4 linked regions of the Homo sapiens genome follow. The protein of the gene in region 3 purifies or fractionates together with the protein of the main gene of each other region. This does not show direct contact. Each region holds a gene or a part of one and is shown on either strand. Other genes may lie near its edges.

Evidence for each region. Proteins that work in one complex are often made in the same cells at the same time.
Region 1: the proteins of PAK6 (region 3) and AHCYL2 purify together in Homo sapiens (affinity purification with mass spectrometry, with the first as the bait; one large-scale study listed by BioGRID). This does not show direct contact.
Region 2: the proteins of PAK6 (region 3) and CNOT1 purify together in Homo sapiens (affinity purification with mass spectrometry, with the first as the bait; one large-scale study listed by BioGRID). This does not show direct contact.
Region 4: the proteins of PAK6 (region 3) and MTHFD1 purify together in Homo sapiens (affinity purification with mass spectrometry, with the first as the bait; one large-scale study listed by BioGRID). This does not show direct contact.

The regions. Positions count from the first base shown.
Region 1 is NC_000007.14:129,389,030-129,392,529, reverse strand, and holds part of AHCYL2 (adenosylhomocysteinase 3), read right to left. Parts: intron 3,475-3,500; coding exon 3,331-3,474; intron 2,897-3,330; coding exon 2,796-2,896; intron 1-2,795. UniProt on the Homo sapiens protein: May regulate the electrogenic sodium/bicarbonate cotransporter SLC4A4 activity and Mg(2+)-sensitivity. On the contrary of its homolog AHCYL1, does not regulate ITPR1 sensitivity to inositol 1,4,5-trisphosphate.
Region 2 is NC_000016.10:58,542,827-58,546,326, forward strand, and holds part of CNOT1 (CCR4-NOT transcription complex subunit 1), read right to left. Parts: coding exon 3,495-3,500; intron 2,666-3,494; coding exon 2,535-2,665; intron 1,078-2,534; coding exon 781-1,077; coding exon of another isoform or gene 559-780; exon of another isoform or gene 327-558; intron 1-326.
Region 3 is NC_000015.10:40,245,563-40,249,062, forward strand, and holds part of PAK6 (serine/threonine-protein kinase PAK 6), read left to right. Parts: intron 1-3,500. UniProt on the Homo sapiens protein: Serine/threonine protein kinase that plays a role in the regulation of gene transcription. The kinase activity is induced by various effectors including AR or MAP2K6/MAPKK6.
Region 4 is NC_000014.9:64,391,353-64,394,852, reverse strand, and holds part of MTHFD1 (C-1-tetrahydrofolate synthase, cytoplasmic), read right to left. Parts: intron 1-3,500. UniProt on the Homo sapiens protein: Trifunctional enzyme that catalyzes the interconversion of three forms of one-carbon-substituted tetrahydrofolate: (6R)-5,10-methylene-5,6,7,8-tetrahydrofolate, 5,10-methenyltetrahydrofolate and (6S)-10-formyltetrahydrofolate.

The DNA.
Region 1 (3,500 bases), on a different chromosome or scaffold from region 3:
GATTATGGAAGTGATTGGAAGGTGATTAGACATGAGATTTCTGCCCTCACAAATGGGATTAGTGTACTTATAAAACAAGCCTGAGGAAGCTTGCTTGCCCCTTTGGCCATGTGAGGGCACATAGAAAGCGCCATCTATAAGGAACAGGCCCTCACCAGATACTGAATCTGCTGGCGCCTTGATCTTGGACTTCCTAGCCTCCAGAACTGTGAACAATAAATATCTATTGTTTATTAATTACCCAGTCTAAGGTATTTTGTTATAGCAGCCCAAATGAACTAAGACAAGAGTGAAAGAGTATTAGGTTGGCAAACAAAGCATAATTTCTTTGTCGTTATTTTTTTAAAGGAAAAAAATGTGGGGTGGAAACAATAAATTAATATTAAAATTGGTAAGCTAATTGTGATCAATCCATTCAGGAAAAAAATAGAAAGGGAACCATGAAAGGTGGTAATGCTCACTGAGCCTAAGGGTAAAAAACAAACTAGATGTAATTCAGCAACATGAGACAGTAGAGAAGCACTTACTATTTTAAGCTACCACACTGAAGTCTCATGTCGCTGACTGAGCAGGCCAAAAAAGATTCAAGAGTGTTTCTGTCTTGATTCATTAGTTTGTAGCTCCAAAACAGATAGCTTTTCAATTTATTATATTAATTTTGAGCAGTCAGGGTACTCTTGTCCTCAGAGAACACATAACCCAGAAAAGTTTCATAGTGAAGATGCTAATAGAAGCTGTCTGTACCTTGAGGAATCTCTAATGTTCTTAATCAGGAATGTGACCACATAAGTGTTGTGCTTTGGGAGAGACAATCTTTGGAAAGCTGATCTAGCCACACAGATGACCCAGATCTTATGAATCCCCATAAAAGATTCCAGACCACTGCTCAATATAACAATTTCCCGATAGTGGTCTCATTATGGTTAGCAACTCCATATATATTGCATCTCTGGTGATAAAAGAGGAGATCTAGAAAATTGTGGGGGCATTTTTGGTTGCCACAATAATTGGAAGGGGAGTGCTATTGGCATTTAGTGGGCAGGACCAGGAATCTGGACATTTTGAAAGTGTCTCAACAAAAAACTGTGTTGCAGCTGGTACAATTTTCAAATGTCCCAATAAAAGTTCCCATGGGTGAAAAACCTATCTACAATTATCTGAGTTTAGAACCTAATTCCACTTTACAAATTAGCAAAAAGTAGTTTTGTAGTTTTAATACAAAACAATAGTTTTTCCAGGAATGTAACAGCTATGTAAATGAAGAGAAAACTCATACTTTTTGTTGTTCTTATTGTTTAGAAGATTACAAAAAGTTGTTTACTATTTCAGAAAATCATGGCAATGCTGCTCTGATGCTCTGGAATCAATAACACATTTATTTCTGTCTTCAAATAATACTATTTCAAATAATACTGTGAAATAGTACAAATATCTGATTGTTCTACTATAGTTGTCCTCAAGTATTTACATATTGAAATACACATTATTTTAAGTATTGTACTTTTTTTATTCCTCCTTCATATTTCAGTTAAGATTTTATATTGATTTATTTTTAAAGATTATATGTACCTGGACATGTTATATCTGAATTTCATTTCAGGATAGTTCAGGGACACTGCAAAAAAAAAGTTTTTTAATAAAAAGGGGACATTAAAACTGATGAGAGTAAGGTAGGAATCACTGGTGTAAGCAAATCATGGTAATTCCACGCCCCTCGGTAGGACTGGTGGAGCACAGATACATGATCCAGTTCTGCCCAATGAGACACGATGGAGTATCCTGGAGGGACTTCTCTTGAGTGAGGAAGAAATGGTCCCTCTTCCTTTTCATGTCAGTTTGTGATGACTAGAATAGTTGTAAGCATCTTGCTATCAGCTTTAGGGTGAAGTAAGCATACTGAGGAGGCAGCTCCAAGAGAATCAGAGAGGTGAAGCTGGAGCCCTGAGATCCTGCATCTGAAGTCTGCCTTCCCTTTGGACTTTCTGCTATGTACTGTGATAAATTCCTTTATGTGACATAACTTTTATTACAGTCTGTTGTTGTAATTGCTCTCTTTTATTTTGAGTTACTGTTGTTCATTTCTTACTGTGCTGAATTTATAGCTGTCTCTCAGTATCCTCAGGGGATTTATTCCAGCACTCCCATGGATACCAAAATCTGAGGATGCTCATGTCCCTTATATAAAATGATGCAGTGTTTGCATATAATCTGTGCACATCCTTCTGTATATTTTAAAGCATCTCTAGGTTATTTATAGTACCCAATACAGTGTAAATGCTATGTAAATAGTTGTTATATTTCTTGTTATTTTGTATTGTTGTATTATTTTATTTTCTGAATATTTTTGATCTGCAGTTGGTCAAATCCTCAGGAAGCAGAACTGGTGGACATGCAGGGCCAATTGCATAAATTAAACTTGATTATAGGTATATATGTATAGGAAAAAACATAGTATATATAGGGTTCAGTACTGTCTGAAGTTTCAGGTGTCCACTAGGGGTCTTGAAACTTATCCCCCACAGACAAGGCAGGGGGACTACTGTATATTGAAGTTAAAATCTTGACTCTGTGATTTCTAGCTGTATAACCTTAAACAAATATCTTAAGCCCTCTGAGCCTCAGCTTCTTCGTTTATAAAATGGAAACAAGAATACCTGCTTTATATGGCCATTATAAGGATTAATAAGCTAATACTTGTTAAGCTCTTAACTCGGTGCTTGGCATGTTGTAAGCTTTCAGTAGCTCGTGGCTATTATTAACTATTGTAATTAAAAGGAGAAAAGAAAAGAACTCACAGCAGTCTGAGCAGTGATGTGTGTGCAACCCACGATTTTGGCTCCAGCCAAAGGCTTTTCTCCTTGAGCTCTCTTCCTCAAAGCCATCAATGCAGGCATTTCTGAAAAGGCCCAATAAATACAGCAATATTAAAGAAGAAGGAATAAGAGATAAAAGAACAAACAGAAAAACTTGTTTTCTTAAGTTAAGATCCTTCCCCTGATCAGGTTAGATTAGGTTTCTCCAGGGATCAAGACATTAAACCTGTATTTTCCTTTATAAAGGGCTTTTGGAGGCAAATGCTCCAGGGTTCTGATTCTCTATATTCCAGTCCTTATCCAGTCTCTCTCCCTTTTTTTTTTTTTTTTTTAATACAGGGTTCCTTCTAGACTTGCCAGATTTCCCCAGTGTTTCTTGAACTCACATTTCTTTTGTTATAAGTATTCTTATCACATAGAAATTTCACAAGCTACCAGACCCCAGACATAAAAAGGGATTAATATGGACAAAAAGACACAGGTAGGTTAAGAAGGAAAAGGTGCTTGTTTTCTTTACCTTGTTCAGCAATTTCAATTTCTCTTCGTCCAAACTCTGCCTGTTTGATGTTCTTAACACAGAAGTCACTGCTTCCCTTAGAGTTCTTTTGCTGCTTGTCCCTGGGCGATGTCTCATCATCAGAGCTATCTGTATATGAAGCCGCTGGAATGACAGAATAAAAAACACTC
Region 2 (3,500 bases), on a different chromosome or scaffold from region 3:
ACACCTCTAATCCCAGCACTTTGGGAGGCCAAGGCAGGTAGATCACTTGAGGCCAGGAGTTTGAGACCAGCCTAGCCAACATGGTGAAGCCACTTCTCTACTAAAAAAATACATAAATTAGTGGGGCGTGGTAGCACATGCCTGTAATCCCAGCTACTTGGGAGGCTGAAGCACGAGAATCAGTTGAACCTCAGAGGTGGAGGATGCAGTGAGCCAAGACTGCACCACTGTACTCTAGCCTAAGCTACAGAGTGAGACCCTGTCTCATGAAACATTAAAAAAAAGGCAAAAAACAACCAAAAAAAATCATTAAAGCAGTAAACAAATTATTAATCATGATACCTGAATTATTAACCATGATATCTGAGACTCAAAACTAGTAAGTGAATTATTTGAAAAGTGTGTGCACATGCAACATCACTTTAAGTCATTTTGTATCGGCCTTCTCAAACAGCTTTCATCCTTCCTGGTTAACAGAAATGAGATTGTCAGATATCACATTTCCTTTTTAAATCTTAATTTATTTAAACCAACAAATATTTGGGTATCTACTATCTGTCAAACATCGTGTTGAGAATATAACAGAAAAAAAAAAAAACACACAGACATGATGCTTTGCCTCACAGAATTACAATCTAAAATGATGGAAGACATCAAACAAATATGGTGATTATTAAGAATAAGTGGTAACGCCCAGTGCCATATATAGACAAAGAAAAAAATTATTACAGACAAGCAGTAATACGTTTTGTACCTATACCAAGGAAATAGCCAACTTACACGAAGGGCTGAGGCAAAACTGTTTTTTAAGTTGGTAGATATGCTCATGAGCAAAGGTTCCCTGCATGTAATCATAGCCATTCCAGCTGTCAAGTTACGCATCATGTGATGAGCTGCTATTCGCATTCGAGATTCCTCCGAATCCAGGGCAAAATCCTTCCTGACTATTTGCTCACAAGTAGTCATGGCAATCTTAATTGATCGATCCACCACAGGATGGACCAGCTCCTGGACAGCCCGTTCAATTGCCTGACGCACACACTGCTTCAACTGTGGATGGGCCTGAAACAAGGGAATCTGGGGGGTTGGGGAGGACAAAGTCAACACCTTGTTTAAATAAGACAATCCAATTCCTACTGGCAATCACATTCATGATTTTGTAAATCAAGATTAACCAAAAACTACCAGTTTCTACTTAAAGTTAACCAATGGAAAATTCGGGTAACAGAAACTGAGCTCCATACAGGGAAATGTATTCAGTATACCCTGTGATACACAATAATAGATATGTCTTTTTTTTAAATCCAAGTTTAATGGACAAACTGTTCATTACAATATGCATTAACTACTTAAAGACACACTGCTGGCTTATTTAAAATTTGTGGCTCAAGTGCTCTTAAAAGAAAGCAACTTCTCCACTAGCTTGGGAAAATGTAAAAAGAATAAAGTTTATAGAAAAAAGACTTCTTACAAAAACTATTAAAATTAATTCATCAGAATAGTGAGCATTTTACAGTGCCCACTGAAGTATTTGGCTTCATTTGAAAGGCTGTTTCTAATCTTTTATTGCAGGTGTAAATTATGCCCCAAAACTTACTTGGTCCCTTTAACTTGTTGAATTAAAAAAAAAAAAAATTAAACTAGCATATAATAGTGTTCACAACACTAAGAGTATTCTAAAGATGAATCACAATTTCTGGATCTAGGTGTCCCACTGCCTCTCACTCCACCCCTCTAAAACTAAGTACCATGTCTATAGGAGTGGGGATGGGGGGACAAGGATAAAATGATTTCTCTGATACCCTTTCAATTCCTTTTAATAAAAAGTTCAATGTATTAATGTTACTCTTGTATTTGTGAACATTTTCAGTTTCTAAAAAGTAAGGACAATGAAAACTCCACTCACCTGATTCTGTATTATATATTCTGTTAAGTAGAATAAAAGACTAAAGATAACAATAAAATGTCCCCTTGAATGTACAAAGCAAATACTAACTATAGGAAAAAGGACTGATCAGAGGTCATCTTACATGACCATATTGTATCAGACCTCCTTCTGGAACCAGGCCACAACAACATAACTCAAAGTGCTAAGTCCTACTTCAAGATCTTAGCCTAGAAATTGTATACACACCCACAATCAGCTCATTTCCAGCCTTCAGGTGGAAGAAATGGCTTACTGCAGAAGGCTAAAGTGACAAGATAAAGAAAATAAAAAGCTATGATATACATTAAGCATCTTTTACTCTGTGTAAGGAATTCCTGGAGATTGTGATTTTATTGCTAGCTAAATTTTAGTATCATGGGTTTGGATATGAGGAACCAATATAACTAACATCTAGTCACTCTATCTCTTAAGGGAAGAAGAACAATCCCAACTGAACTACACAGCAGTTCTAGATCTCCATCCTCTCTGACAAACTCTACAACCTAGGAATCCAGAGGGAAGGGCAAAGAGCTGAAGAAAAGGTGGCCAAACAAAATTTACCTTATCACAAACTAGAAGCTGGGAGAATGGAGCAGTGTTTACTTACTGTTGGATTCAGAGTAATGTGTGGTGCCAAGCCCGCAAGGGAATAGACATTGATGTCGTGGTAGCTGTACTGTGGCTGTGGTGGAACCGTGGCTGTACAAGTGGTGTTGGTAGCTGGTGTAGTAGAAGTTGCTAAATGTCAAGTAATAAAAAGAGATTTAAAAAGTACATTTGTTGACTTTATTATAAAATTAGCTTAATATCATTAAGTGGTCATTATCTAATTAAACGAATTAAATTGGGAGAGGAGGGAAGGATGTAGCAGGTCCTATTTTTCCCACCCTGAAAGGGAAATTCTGTTGTTATAACAGAGATATACACGAAGTATGTTAAACTATGTCAGTGCCAGTGCCCCACAGCACAGAAATCAACTGAGCAGCCATGCCATATTGTCAGGCCCAAGTCCTATAAACTTAGTCTATATTATAAATGTATGTTTTCAACCTAGCCTGTTCCTAGGTTTATCTGGGGATTCTCAGCTGCTGAGGACTGAGAAAGAAAGAAAAGCTCAATTTATTCTAACCACAACTCCCAATCATTCAACACTCCCATACCCTTCTCCCATCTTCTTCATGTAGATAAAACAGTCCCATTCCCTTGGCAGATCTAGCAGGTCTGGCCATACCCAGATTTGAGGGGTTAACAGGCCATCATAGTATGCAGTTATTTCTGGGACTTCACACAACAAAGGAGATAACCTGGCCTAGCTGGGGTATGAGAGGCAACTGATTAAATCACATTTAGTTAATAATATGCATGAACTGTCAGGATGGAATCTAAGATGGTAACACAAGGCCTAGTCATTACTTCTGCTTGATAATTAGAAGGCTCACCAAAACGTATACAAAGTTTCACCACTACATTATGTGGGAAATTATAGTTTGCGATATACATGGACAAGTACCATTTAAGATAGTATCCTAGCTAACAGAAGCCTTCCTTGACTAATTAGCACACTTACTTGTGG
Region 3 (3,500 bases):
CTCAGATCAGCAAAGAGGAGCTCTGAGGAGGAAAAGGCTGCCCCAGGAAAGAGCTGGCCATCTCAGATTGCTGTAGCACATTCAAGCCAAAGGGAGTCCCCGGAGGATGTTTCGTCCAGCCCCCATAATTTTAGAGCGGGAAACAGAGGTCCAGAGAAGGAAAGTGGGTCCTGAGGCCACACAGCTAACTAATGGCAGAGTCAGTTTCCAGCCCAGGGATCCCCAGCTGCCTGCCCAGCACTCTTGCTACCCAGGCTGAACCCCCACCCCCGTGCTACCAAGGGGCCCATGCAGGAGCAGGCAGCAGCCACTGGGTAACTTGATGGCTTGGGAGAGGCGGCCTGGCCTGACACATTGGGAGGCTGGGCAGGTCCCCGCTTTGCTCCTATTGTGCTATTTGGGTGCCTCCTGCCATCCCCCTGCATTCTGCTAGACCTGAAACCACAGCCCAGCCCACGCTTGTCAGTCAAGTGCTTCCCGAGGATAAACTTTGCACACAGCACCCAGGCCACTCTTGGGGACCAGGCCACTCTCTGTTGAAGAGATCTAACTAATTTATAAATTGATTGATTGAAGTTCTTTTTGTCCCAGGTAACTTCATGTCTTAGGCCAAAGAAGGGAGTCATGATGAGTGCCAGAGATGAAACGGAGATTCTGGGGCAAAGGGTAGGGGAGGCACCTGGGAGGCCCTGTTCTTCAGGTGATCTTCTCATTAGTGTAGACTTTTGACCCCAGGCAGACATTTACATGTCCAATAGCCACCATCAGAGGTCAGTTCCCAGAAGCAGGAGGCCTGTCACTTGCCACCGGTCACCAGGCCCAAGCTAGACAAGAAGACTTTTTCTATTCCACTAGAGTGGATCTTGCTGATGATGTGTCTGGGATCCAGAAAGGTGGGGAGAAGTAGAGGTCTCAGCTCCTGGGGAGGGATGGAGCCAGCCCCGGGGGAAGAATGCAAGGCCGCCAGTGAGCAGGCATTCAGGGCTCCTGTCGAGGAGAGGGTGGTCAGGACAGGAGGAGGGGCTGCCTCATGGATGATGAGGTCCATCATCCTAGCAGAGGCTGTTGTACCAGCCACTGACGAGGGTGTGGCAGTGGTGTTACCAGAACCCTGCTATGTCAGCGTTCAAATACATGTCCCAGCAGGCCAACCACCCCTGCAGCAGTCAAGGGGTTCTGTCCGGTGTGTGCCAGAATGCTAGGGAAGAGAGGACCCTGAGAAGGATGGCAGCATGGCACAGACACGCCATGTGGCAGTTAGACAGGTCATGCCTTCTGACCCAGGGCACATGCAGAGGTCCACAGACTCTGAGGCCAGCTAGTTAGTGTTCCCAGGGGGCTGCACAGCCCAGAGCCTGTGAGTTTTGTGCATCTGGAGCTAAGGTGTTCTGCCCAAAGTGTTGGAGGTGGGCCTCAGGCAACAAATACCCTGCTTCCTCACATCCCCTTTTCTTCCTTGGAGCTTGGGCCTGGGCCCTCACCTAGTCAGGCACAGGCCTCCACTCCCCCACACTCACCTGTCCTTCCTGAAAGTCAGCCACTGGGCTCCACGCAGGGGTGTCACAGTCAGAGCCCTGCTCCAGCCTCAGACCTGGGGCAGTCACTGGAAACTCAGAAGAGAGAAGACAAGACAATGAAAGTTTCCCATTCAAGGAGGCATCCAGCTGTTAGTTCTGCCAGCAAAAATGCCAGCCAGAGAGCTAAACTGCCAGCAAAAGATATTTGGATGGAACTTTGGAGGCCATTAAGAGCAGGCACTGCAAAGCAATTGTAGCGAAAAGATATTAAATGAATCCATCACGTCTCTAAAATGAGTGTCCTTACCACAGATCTGGCTCTTGCTGTTCCCCAGCCCTTCCCAGGGTAGCCCAGGATGCACCTGGGACGGGCGCCGCAGCCTGCAATGGTCCCTGCATCTGAGGAGCTCCTCCCAGGTCACCAGGCTCCTTGGGACTGTCAGGCAGGTTTAGCCCCCAGTGTCAGCTTGTGTTTGGGGAGGATGGTTTTATATATTCTCGTTGGCACAGGAAGCCTAGTACAGATGCAGAACCTGAGGGAAAGGCAGGCAGAGAGAGAGAGGCTCGAGGTTCTGCTGAGGCCCAGGGTATCAGCAGGGCACATCTGTACAGCAGCCGGGCGGGGACCCATGGACTTTTCCAAAACACCTAACCAGGCCCTAGACAGTGCTACCCCCTGGCGCTGGGCTCTCTTTCCGGAACCCGGGGTGAACAGACCTGTTGGGTTGATTTAGTAGCAAGTGGTAGCCTTGTTTTCTGGACGAATCCTGGGATTCTACTCCATGGCACATCAAACCAAGCTCCAGTGTGCATGCCCAGGGTCGGGGAGGGGAGCTTTCTCCTTGGTCCCTTCTGCAGCTGTGAGGGCTGAGGGTTAAGAACCTTTCACCCCGTTTGGGGGTGCTGCTCCTCCATAGCCCTGTACCCCAATGCTCTAGACTTCATTATTCCACCACCTTCCCCAGGGCGGGAGGTACTCTTTCCATTACATGCATCAGGAAACTGAGGCCAGAGACATGCTGTAAGTCTTGCGAGGCAAGAGGGCTCCCGTCCGCAGGACTCCATGGCTCTGCAGCTAGACTCCGTCAACTTCCCTCCTGCCTGGGGACCCCAAGGGCCTGGCAGTGTCAGCTCCCTCGGCTCACACTTCCAGATGCTCGGAGGTTCAGAGGTTTGCACCTCCCTCTTGGTCCCATCAGCAGAGAGAGATGGGTGGTCCCATCAGGGTGAGGAGCAGGAAGAAGCAGGTGCTGGACAGCCTGGAGGAGAGGGGGAGGAAGGGATTTTCTCCCAAGAGTGCCTCTCTCCCAGGCTTCGGGCTCCAGGGTGAGTGGGCAGCGACCCCTCTAGGAGCCCCAGCTCCACAGGGCTCCTCCTGCCAAGCATCCAGCACACGTGCCCCCACCTCCCCGGCAGGTCCTGCTTGAGGGCCTGAGGCGACTGGGCCATCTGGGTCTGTGAAGGGCAGATGTGGGATGCAGGAACTTCAGGCAGGGTGCTGGCTTGTGGCCAGGAAAGCCTAGCACCTGATTCCTAGCAGGGAACTCAGTGACAGAGTGGGGGAACCTGAGGGCCCCTCTGCCCCTCACACCCAGTGCCATGTGGGGGTCCTCGCGTGTTACACAGAAATAGGAAGGGACGGTCCTCCTACCCGCACCCCAGCCCTCTTGTGTCTCACGTGACAGCCTGCCTGGGCAGTGATTTTTTTAAAACACAAATGCCTTATATTAAGGTCTGAGTTGGTCTCTCCCCACTGCCCGTTCAAACATTCCATGGCACCAGCAGCCTCTAAGCAGCAGAGTTGAGAGAACCAGCTTTGGGGTCGGATACACTTCCGTTCAAATTCCAGCTCCTCCCCTCAGTAACTGGCTTACTTAGTCTTTCTGGACTGGATAACAAAATACTATGGACTGGTGGCTTATAAACAACAGAAATTTATTTCTCACAGTTCTGGAAGCTGAGAAGCCCAAGAGCAAGGTGCTG
Region 4 (3,500 bases), on a different chromosome or scaffold from region 3:
CTTGTAATGAGAAAAGCCTCACAAGGACCTGGCCTTCCTGCTTTTCAAAAAGACTGAACAAAACCTTAGGTAGAAAAGGTTAGGTCTAAAAGGCTGCTTACTAAGGAGGGACTGGTATTTGGGCACCTAAACCCAAAGATCACTTATAATGTTAAGTCATTCATTGCAGTCAAGATTAAGTTCCTGACAGGCTCTGGCAAAACCTTTCACAGAAATGCTCCCTTATCTCCTGGGACCTCTCAAGCACCAGATACCAAGCAGTACGTCTCCCGTCCAGGCTTGTGGTGAGGGGCAAAGAAAAAAAAAAAGCTTAGCCAGCAAAGTAAGTAGGTCTGACCTGTCTCTAACCAGTCAAAATTGGACTATAACTTCAAAAATGACTTTTTGAAGAGAATCTGTTTGGGTGCTTCCCAACCAGACTGATGGGTGGAATGATTTCCTCACAATGGAAAGGCCTCAGGGAGAACCAAACCCAGGGTGTCTCCTGCTGGAGGGTAGAAGTTTGCAATTCCTTCTAGCAAGCCAATGACAAGCCCATGGTAGGGAAAGAAATGCACCATCGAGCCTCTGCCACCTACCTTGGAACACCTGGGCAAGTCACTTAGCTTCTGGCTAAAGTGTCATAAACTGCAAAATTGAGGGTAAGGGTAGTAGCCGAGTGGCTGAGGAATCTTGACTGTGGCACCTTTAGCCACCCACTTCTTCAAGGTCAAGGATTTACAGGGTGACAGAAGCTGCTTTTTGGTCAATTAAGGGGTGCAAAGGAGAGCCAACCGCACAGTGCAGGGGTAATGGGGGCCTTCTGCACTGTGGATGGGACGTCAAAGAAGCTTGTTTTGAGAGTCTTACATTCTTTTAATCCTTGGGGCAACGTCAGGAAGTAGACAGTTCTCATCATCCCTACTGCACAGAAAGGAAAGTGAAGCTAACTTTTCCAAGGCCACACAAGCATCCCTGCCCCTTAACCTCTATTCTACCAACCTCTACTGAGTCAATTAGAGGAGAAGGGAGCCATTTGCTTCCACTCCAAGGACCCTCCTCTGTACTAGGCCAGCTTTCCTTCTAGAAGATTCTTCATGCAAATAGGGGATGTAACAGGGAACCACAGACCTCTGCTCAAAACCCCACTACCCAAATCCCAAACTGCCTGATCCCAACTCCCCTGATGGACAAGGACAGACACTTATTTGCAAACCACATCCCCAATCAGGTGCCATGACCATAGTAGTTGGCTGCCAGCTCTGGGCTCTGCTGCACTATCGCTGCAACCTGCCCAACAGCCTGGCTGGGGTCCTAGCTGAAGGTCCCAGCCTCTCTGGAACTCCGACCTCTCCTGCACAGGCTTCCAGAATCAATCCAGCTATGACAGTCAAGTTTCCATGTAACTTTTGAGCAACCTGCACTTTGGAGTTCATTACAGGCAAATTTTTTTTTTTTTTCTTTCTGAGATGAAGTTTTGCTCTTGTTGCCCAGGCTGGAGTGCAATGGCGCCATCTTGGCTCACTGGCTCACTGCAACCTCCTCCTCCCAGGTTCAAGCCATTCTCCTGTCTCAGCCTCTGGAGTAGCTGGGATTACAGGCATGGGCCACCATGCCCAGCTAATTTTGTATTTTTAGTAGAGATGGGGTTTCACCATGTTAGTCAGGCTGGTCTCCAACTCCTGATCTCAGGTGATCCTCCTGCCTGGGCCTCCCAAAGTCCTAGGATTACAGGCATGAGCCACCACGCCCTGCCCAGACAAATCTTTTTAAGCACAAAAGGGCCTACATGTATTTAATCTACAGGACAAAGTAAAAGTCTTATCCATGTTAACTTAGTAACCAAGAAGACCTGCCCTTCACTATGGTAAGCAAATTATTTTCACAAAAACAGTTCTTCTAGCCCTGTAGCTAAATGTACAGCCAAGGTTCCAAACTTTTATCTTTGATCACTAGGATAAATTCTAATTTTAAGTCTCAAGATTATAAGCCAGCTCCCAAAGGTACAGCCTGGATAAACACAAACATCACTTTTTTATTCAATGAGTACTTTCTAAGTACCTATTTATTAAAACTTACCATGTACCAACAACTTCTCTAAATGCTTTATAGGTATTAAACTCATTTAATTCTAACAACCTTATGAGTTAGGTGACATTACTACCCCAATATACAGAAGCTAAGGCACAGAGGTAAATTGCATGACCCAGTGATGCACAGAGGAGGCAGCACCGTGCTTAGGCTCTGGAGCTACCATCCACAGCGAGCTTACAAATATACCCAACTTGCCCTGCACTTGGCCAGCAAACACTCGCAGCACCTACTCAAACCATCTGCCTCTTCACAACCAGTCTCTTTAGAAAGGAGACTTAATCAAGAAAAATGCCACCAATGGAGAGAGCAGGCTTAATTATAGCAAACTAAGGGAAGGAAAAACCAAACAAATCATATAAATGTAGTAAGCCCCCCTTTGAAAGGCCCACTTATAGAACAACTATGCTTTCTTGCCTACAAAGCAAGGTGGGTCTTCCAACACTAATGCACATCCTTCTCCCACTTTGCATAATCTTTTAAAAGACACCACCCTTCTGCCCAGGGCAGGGTCAGGTTCCTCTACTCAGGAGCCTCCACTCGGTCAGCTTCTCACAGGGCCATTGCCATTGACCCCCCAAAGCAGTAAGTTAGTAACTGGTGAGGACAAAGGTCTATGGCACAGGCTGTGTTTTTGGTCAGGAGCTATTTCCCTCACAACATTGGCAGGCTTAAGGCTCCACCTCCTTCAAGTCTTTGCCCGTAAGTCACTTTTACAAAGACTATGACTCCCATATTTAAAATTGCAGCCACCATACCACAGAAACTCCTGTCCCTCTTTTCTGCTCTGGTGTTCTCTTTGTGCTTCCCACCAGCTCACAATGTGTTTCACCTATTTAAATGTCTGTCTCTACCCATCAGTATGCAAGTTTCATGAGGGTAGGGATTTGGGCTGTTTTGTTCACTATTAGACTCTCAGAGCTTTGAAGATTGCCTGGCTTAGGGGACACATACAGCTACTTGTTGAGTAAGTGAATAAATACCCACAAAGAACAGATACTTGTCTCTAACTCTCAGACCTTCCCCCGGTTGTCAAATTCAGGCTGCAAACTTAGAATTCCCCGTGAGGGAGAAAAGGGGCTGTTACTTCCAAAGAAAGATAATTTGGCAACTAAATCCATCATGTAAGTACCCAGTTTCCCACAGAGTAGAGCAGGTAGAGAAGGAATCTGGAATGCTGAACTTTGTTGATGTCCGAGCTCCCAGGAAGGCATAAAAGGAGAATAATAATAGAAGAGGACGAGTCAGGGATAGCATTCTCAGCAGGGTGGGAAACATGCTAATGAGAGGAAGACTGTAAAGAAAAAGCAAAGCGCCAGCGGGGGCGCAGTGGCTCACACCTGTAATCCTAGCACTTTAGGAGGTGGAGGTGGACAGATCACTTGAGGTCAGGAGTTCAAGACCAGCTTGACCAACATGGCGAAACCCCA